Regions from separate parts of the Homo sapiens genome. Here region 2 is reported to be linked to region 1. Evidence: microRNA targets listed by miRTarBase, many of them from high-throughput screens and not tested one by one. Region 1 holds a microRNA gene; the other region holds the end of a gene's coding sequence.

Region 1 (4,069 bases):
GGTCTATAATTGCTGACCCCAAGCTATCTTTTAATGAATTGTTAAGGACAAACTCCTCCAGGAGGAGGTATAAGGCTAACTAGTAAAAAGTGATCACGAAATTGAGGGTTAAGAGACCTTTATTCAAGCACTGGACATGTCATTAGCTGGCTGTGAAATCTTGAGTGTGTAAACCTGATAAAATACAATTTCATGATTTCTAAAACTCCAAATGAATGATTTCTAAGGGTCCTTTTAACTTTAAAGTGCAGAGATTGGCTACTATGATCCACACTGATCTCTCCCTCATCTATACTCCTATTTTACATAATAGAGTTTAGCACTGATTTATTTTTAATTATTTCATAACTGCCAGTTTTGCCTTTCTATCAAGACTGTAGGATGGCTGAAGAGAGGAATCACCTCAAATCTTTTCTGTAACTTAAAGAATGGTTTATTTAATGCTGTCCAAGTAGTAACACTCAATAACTGTGGGATCACTTGGTAATTGGCCAGCTTTTAGCTTTCAGCAGAAATTTAATTTGTTTTCATAGAAAATAAAGTGGCAACCATATAAATTGTTTAAAACTTGGAGAATTGTTTTAGTTAACTCTCTATTTTGTGAGTAGTTTATTGTATAAGAATGCTATGGTTTGAATGTTTGTGTTGCCCCCAAAATTTGTATATTGAAATCCTAACCTCCAAGTTGATGGCATTAGGAGGGGAGGCCTTTGGGAGGTGATTAAGTCACGGGCACAGACACCTCAAGAATGGAATTAGTGCCACTATAAAAGAGGCCTGAAGGAGTTGCTTGCCCTCTCTATCACGTAAGGACAAAGTGAGAAGATATTATCTAGGAACCATGAAACAGGCCCTCATTGAACAATGAATCTGCTGGTGCCTTGTTCTTAGAAATCCCAGCCTCCAGAGTTGTGAGAAAAAAATTATATAAGCTATCCAATTTATGGTATTGTGTTTGGTTTAGTAGCAGCCTAAAAGTACTAAGTCAAAACACATGGTGATGTATTAAAACTGCTCTAAAATACATAAACTTAAGCTACTAACCAAAACCTAGCAAATTCATAAGAGAATTGATAAAGATGAATTTGGTAAACTTGTAATCTATAAAAAATTATCTAAATAACTAAAGTACTCTAGAACTATGCTCTACAATATAGTAGCCACTGATCACACGCTGCTATATAAATTTAAAAATTTAGTTCATTGGCCATTTTTCAAGTGCCTTGTGGCTAATGTCTGTCAAATTAGTGCAGATTGTAGGTCATTTCTGTCAACACAGAAAAATCTACCAGACAGCACTTCTTTAGAATGTCCAGGGAGAAGCTCTTTCATTGAGATAATTCAAAGAAAACCATGTTTATCCAATGCATTTTCCAAAAAAGGAAAAGCCTTGGCGAAGAATTTGGTTTATTCTTCTCAGAACCTAACAAAATGGGGAAATGTCCTTGATTAATTTTGTGTGTTTATAAATTAAGGTACCTTAAGTGGAACAAAGAAATACCATTTATAAATAGAAAATGTATTACAAATATGAAAGTCAATTAAGGAAATACAAAATAAATCTTTGGAAATGACTTTCATATTTTTCTCACAGCCTACCAAAATCCATGGCCAGGAGATATGTAATATATACTTGGCAGAACTTGCCTTTATAGCTTAATTTTCTGTGCCAAAGATACAGGCCTTCAGAATTCTTGTTGAGAAAATAAAAAGTAATTGTGAAATGGTTCCTCTGGCCTAAGGGATGACAACATACATCAACACCATTATACCCTCCCTACCCACCCACAAAAGTTTTTAAAGAGTATAGAACAAACAAACAAGCAAATACAACCTTAACCAACACCAGCTCAACAGATATAGTCTATAAATTAATTATCAGCAAAGGTACAAAGTATGCAATAAAGTACTTAACAATATACATTTTATTTACCTCAGTTTCTCTACTTCTCTACATCTTACCAGATGGGTTATTTGAAAGAACTCCAATCTCCTACACAAAAAAGCAGGACTCTGGCAGATTGCTAACTAGAGATTTTTGGCCCTATAGGCAAGCATCTGTGAGTGGGGCTGTGTGGGAAACAAAAATATGTTGGAAAAAGAGTTGATAGATGCCCCAGCATAAATGAGGACCCAGCAAAATCCATACTCCTGTCATGGCATCTCTGTCCATCCATTTCTGTTAGTTACCAAGGAACTAGCCCAGAGCAAGGGCAAATGGACCACAATAGCTGGAGAAGTGGGAGAAAAGGAGGTATACCTTGAAGGAGTAAACAGTTTTGGATTTGTACAATGTTTTAAAATCATTAACAGAGACATCAAATCATTAGCTGTCAACCTGGTTCAACTTACTTAGAATACGTGTTTTTTTTTTTTTAATCCCATTGGAACAGAAATGCAATATAATCATGAATTTCATCTCTTATTCTTTATGTCTATAATAAATTTTGTTTTTTCTCTGGAAGTCCTGCATAAACATAAATGGTATTCCCTCTAAATTGCAGTTATTCTCACAGCCTCTGAAACCAAGTATGGGTCGCCTTCCCGTTCTGCACCAGGTCTCACCCACGCTTGATTTCATGGGCCAGGAGAGCACATCTGGCAGATCTAACAGAGGTCTGAAGTCAGGACAGTTAGCTAGAAGGTGATAAAGGAGTAAAGCAAGAGAAGATACAATAAAATCTGTTGTATAAATAACATTTTATGTAAGAACCAGCAAATATAACTCAGGGGAAGACATTTTCAGTGCAATTTTCCATTCGGATTATCTGTACTGTATCCAAGATAATATGTAGCGACAGGTAAACATTCAACAATTCTTTCAAAATCTATTTTGTATATATTTCTTTACTGTCAATTTTCGATCATCTGGAAAATTCAACTATACAGTCTCACCCAGTGTACTTTACACCAATCGTTCTGGACTTAAATGTCTTTCTCCATCATCAAATTGTATTGACAAAGTATGCAGTTCAAGAAAGCCCTTCTAGTTTTTATGAGGTACCAAAAGGAAAATACATAAAATTACAATCTAAGATACCCTGACAACACAAAAATCCACAGAATTCTTTCTTGATACCTAAAACTTCGTATGACAAATTTGGTTTTATAAAATGTAGAGCTTTCAAAAAAAAAGCATACCATAACATTTTAAGAAATTCTAAAGTCTTGAGTAATTTGTTAATTTAGGATCTATAAATTTGTATCACAATTTTCCAACATTAAAAGAAAAATGAAAGCTAAGTAACAGACAAACCATGTTGGCATGATACTTTTAAATTTGCAAAATGCAATTATTGTCCATATAAGATTACCAAATAAAAACAAAATCAGAGTCATAGCATAGCAGAACTGAAAAATACCTCGAAATAAGCTCATAGCCTAATCCCAATAATTTAGAAATGGCAAAACAGGAGTTCTTGACCTTCATTTTAACCTGAGTTTGGAAATGCATCACTAGAGGTTGCAGGAATCAGTGACTTGCGTCAGCTCAATGTGACCAAGCTCTATGCCTCCACATATCCTCCAACAAAAATGAGAAGCTAAGGACATTTCATGACTGATCCTGAGAGTGGCCCAGAAACCTCTTTGCTCCATTGCCTCCCTGCACCTGTTCAGTTCCATTTCTACCTGGTTCCCTGCTCAGCTTCATCTCATTGCCATCAACCCTTGCATCAACACTTAAACTTGGTGTTGCCATTCTGTACCCTAGCTTTACTCTTCAGTGATCTTTTTTTCCTTCCTGAGACAGAAAGACTCATCTTGTCTGGGCCCCCCTATTTACCATAATCACCATGCCTCCCCCTCCCACCTACCTCACGAGCTCAGATCTTGGTGTCCACACGGAGCCTCTCTAGTATGCCAGCCTTGACAGACAGCACCATTGTTAACAATTTCCAGTTCTTTACAAGGTCATTGGATTTAACTCTTCAAAGCACTGTGCTTTAATTTCCGAGTGGCACTTTACCAACATTAACTTCTTTGTGGAAAGTTTTACATCAAGGTAGCATTTGCTCAAAGGGCATGGGCCACATAATAGGGACCTTCCAAGGGACCTTCATTAATGCAT
Region 2 (4,069 bases), not on the chromosome of region 1:
CATTCATTGCCACGCAGTAGAAGTCGACAGTCAATTGTTTCCCCATCTTCCACAACACAGTCCTTAGGACAGAGTCATAATTCACCAAGTAGTGAATTTGAGTGGAGTCAAGTAAAGCCCAGTTTGAAGTCAACTAAAGCAAGTAAAGGGGGGAAATCAGAAAATTCTGCCAAGTCTGGATCAGCTGGGAAAAAAGCGAAACAAAGTAATTCTTCACAGCCAAAGGTTTTAGAATATGAAATGACTCAGTTTGATAGAAGAGGACCTATAGCCAAATCCGGGACTGCTGCACCACCTAAACAAATGCCAGCAGAATCTCAATGCAAAATTATGATACCTTCAGCTCAGCAGGAAATTGGTCGATCTCAACAGCAGTTTCTTATTCACCAACAAAGTGGGGAACAGAAGAAGAGAAATGGAATAATGACAAATCCAAATTATCATCTTCAGAGCAACCAGGTTTTTCTTGGTAGGGTTTCAGTCCCACGAACAATGCAAGATAGAGGGCATCAGGAAGTGTTGGAGGGATACCCTTCCTCAGAGACAGAATTAAGCCTTAAACAAGCTCTGAAGCTTCAGATTGAAGGTTCTGACCCTAGCTTCAACTATAAAAAGGAAACACCATTATAAAAGGTAATATTTTGTCAACATAAAGAGTAAAAAACAAAAGTAGAGTTCCCTCTACTTGGAATGCTCTTTTCCTTGATCACAAGGCCAATTCCCTCAGTTAATCTCTACTCAGATGTCATCTGGGCCAGACCTGCCTCATCACCCCTTTACATCAGAATTCTCCTGCCTCTAGCACTCCTTTCCCCCTTGCGTGCATTATGTTATCCAAAGCACTTACTATTTAAAATACTTCAGATGTTTTCTTTATTATTTTTCTCCTCTGAACTAAAAATACAACCTTTGTGAGGGTAGGGTTTTCTATCTGTTCACTACTGTATTTCATGTACTTGGAATAGTGCTTGGACCTATGGTAGTTTCCCAGTAAAAATTTGTTGAATAAGTGAATGAACTAATGAATGAATGAATGAATATACTACTTATGGATCCCAGATTAAGAATTCTTTCCTATTCAGTTATGTCCTCCTTTTAAAAGAATTTTGATGGTGTCAGAGGGAGGGGCTGTTTCAAACTCATCTTTTTGGTTTGAATGCAATAATGTCTGTAGCACATAGTAGATAGTAAATATTAATTTCATTCCTTTTCACTCAGAAAGAAGTCAAAAACTTAGTAGAAGGTAGTTTTTATGATGACAGATCTCTTGAGACTCTTCTAAGTAATGTTTTCACACATAAGGCATAGACGTGAAAAATGATAAATGGATGTTTTTGCAATATTGGTATTTAGGGCACTTTATACCTGGATAAAATAGTCATATTTGTTAAATAAATTTTTTTTTCTCCTTCCTGTAACAAAGGATACTTCATTAATAATATAGGGGATGTTAGTGGGAAAATAGGTATGTAAGTTTTATATTTTAGATACTTTTTCAGAAGCTCATTTCCTGTATTGGAGATAAATCTGAAGATTTTATTAGGGGTCTTTCCTAGCATACACTGCAGCTATATTTATCCCACTTTGCTTAATGATTTTTCTTCCTCTAACAAAGTTATATATACTCTTTCCTTTTTGCTGCTTCTGTCTTTGTAAATATATTTTAGGGATATAATAGGTGAAACACTATTATAGATAAATTCCTCATATATTCTAATAATAAACAGCCTTCAATGTGAATCTAGGGGTGACCAAATGTCATTCAAAAATAATTTGAATAAAGTACTTAATTCAGTCCCCAAATGCAATTCGTTTTTAAAATAATTAGTTCTGATGGTGCACCCTTTCAACTCTCATGATATCTGTTTTAAAGGCAAAATATAAATACGTATTAAAAATGAAACACCAGAATTAAGGTAAACATTTTGTGGAATTTAAAAAGTGGCTTATAAGTTAAATAATAGTTAAGTCTGCTTTGTGCTTTGCATGGTAAATATATAGATAAAGATATATAGAGGTAAATGTATTAAATAAAGTTTTAAAATGATATGTAGCTGTATAATACAATGTAGAAAATAATTTTTTTTTAACTTTTGCATTAGTTTCCTATTCTGTGAAACAGAAGACATTGTGATGGAGTGGTTCTTCAGCTACTGGATGGAAACATATGCCTGTTGATTTGCTGAAAAAACAAAAAAAATGAAGAATGTGATCTCTGCAGTACAGTTACCTTAATTACTGTAATGTGCCTAAATAGTAAGGCTGCCTTCTCAATGTAACCCTCTGTGCTTAAAAAATTTCATTTTGTGTGCTTTGTATTCACTACACAGGAATAAGCACTTTTTAAAAATGCAGATACATACTGCAGTTCCCTGATAAAAGCTGAAAAGAAAATTTGAGTATTTTAAGTTAAGATGTGATAAAAAATGTGCATGTGCCATAATCAAATATATATGAAAAGGCAGTGTTCCTTGTATTTATTTTTTTTTCTTTTTGTGGCAAAAGAAACTTAAACATACTGTTTCAGTCACATTGCATTGTAGTGTATGGCCTGTTTCTTGTATCTTTAAAGACGTTGCTCAATAAAACAAATCTTGCAACTGTTCTATGTTCACTACACCTTCAGCATTGGATAAAAATCATTTTCTATATAAATATCACATTGAAATGAAAAAATGATTTCTTGGCAGTTTAAAAAAAATATTTTATAGTAGTTTAGGGAGCTGCTTTAAGTAGTTTAAATCTGGATTTTCCCAGTAGAATTCTTCTCATCTCTGGCTAAACATGTCAGAACAAACAACCAACCAGTCTGTAGGCAGAACAAAGTCCTATTTCATCCGCTGGGATACAATTTCATCTTCCATTCACTTTGTCATTCCACCTCTAAGAAGACAGACTATCATTCCTGAGGCATGAAAATTCTCAGGGACAAAGCCATGCCTCAGTCACATGTGTGTGCAGAGAGAAATGCACCTGTCTATCTAAGGGTAGATTTTTGATCCCTGAATAATTCATTGACTAAACTGACCTCTTCCTCCTGGCTAAATAAATTAATTTTGCTGGCTTCTCTCTCAGCGGTTTCTATTTTGTAAATTGCTGCATGACCAAAATAGCCCCACTCAAAATCAATTGGATTAATTTTAATGGTTTGGTTGGATGAATATTCTGGATGAATATAAAATGTGCTGCCCTTCACAGATGACACCACTCCCCTGTCAATCATAGCACATGTGTACTTTTTATTGTTACTTAATAGTGATGGATTTGCACTTTTCTATCCTCATACTCTTTCCTGTTTTCTTCTTTGTACAATTGCATGCAGGAGGGCTGGATGCCAGGGTTAAGAGAGAAATTCATGACAAGGAAGGTAAAATTGGTTCAAATGAGCATGTGTCCCACAGCCTTAGTCTCCTTACTCTTAAATCAGTGGAGCTGTAGCTTAGATGGGTCGTTTATATGTCTGGAAAAGTTGTCATAACAGTTTAGAAGCCAAGGTTGTGGATTTGATCTTAGAATGGGCCTGTTAATCTTATAGAACCCAGAAATTCTGTTCTTTTCATGTACTGTTGATGAGGAATGAGGAAAGAGAATTTGGAGATTCAGCACAAAACCATTGCTACTTCTAGAACAAAATCTTTAGAATATGTCCTAATAACAAAGGTCAGTAATGTCATCTTCATATATGAAGGACACATGTGATACATTGTTCGTGGAAATAGAAATGTATAATTATGATAAATGTTTCACTTGAATCTTATTGTAAGGCTTTTCTTGCTTTTATTTTTTAAAGTCAGCAAAACTCATTTTGTCTGTCATCTATAAGTCATAGTGAGGACTACGAGATAAGTTGATAAGTTCAATTGATATTAAGGTGACATGGCAATATTAATAACTCAAATGTGAATGTTTCAAGTATTGAATTCTTGTCCCTATGGGACATTTATTAAATAAAATTAATGGGACTCTTGCAAAGTAGCCTTAAAAGTGTTAATGAGTCTATTAATAAATATGAACACATACTATTATTAGAACCAACTTTACTCATATCTCAAATACAGTACATTTACAT

The links. The annotated mature microRNA hsa-miR-551b-3p reads GCGACCCAUACUUGGUUUCAG and lies in region 1 at 2,520-2,540, opposite strand. An mRNA with a match to its seed (bases 2 to 7 or 8) in the 3' UTR can be bound and repressed. Matches are read on the target gene's strand: a 7mer-m8 pairs with bases 2 to 8, a 7mer-A1 pairs with bases 2 to 7 and ends in A, and an 8mer does both.
Region 2: miRTarBase lists ANKRD50 as a target of hsa-miR-551b-3p. Seed matches in the 3' UTR shown: 7mer-m8 at 3,445-3,451.

The regions. Positions count from the first base shown.
Region 1 is chr3:168,550,385-168,554,453 of GRCh38, reverse strand. It overlaps MIR551B (microRNA 551b), which reads right to left and starts at 2,600; the gene lies at 2,505-2,600. It also overlaps the pseudogene EGFEM1P.
Region 2 is chr4:124,665,548-124,669,616 of GRCh38, reverse strand. It overlaps ANKRD50 (ankyrin repeat domain containing 50), which reads left to right. Exons shown (of 5, transcript NM_020337.3): 4 at 1-633; 5 at 2,103-4,069. The coding sequence ends at 630. Among named protein-coding and RNA genes, the nearest start is that of ANKRD50, 45 kb to the left of the region's middle.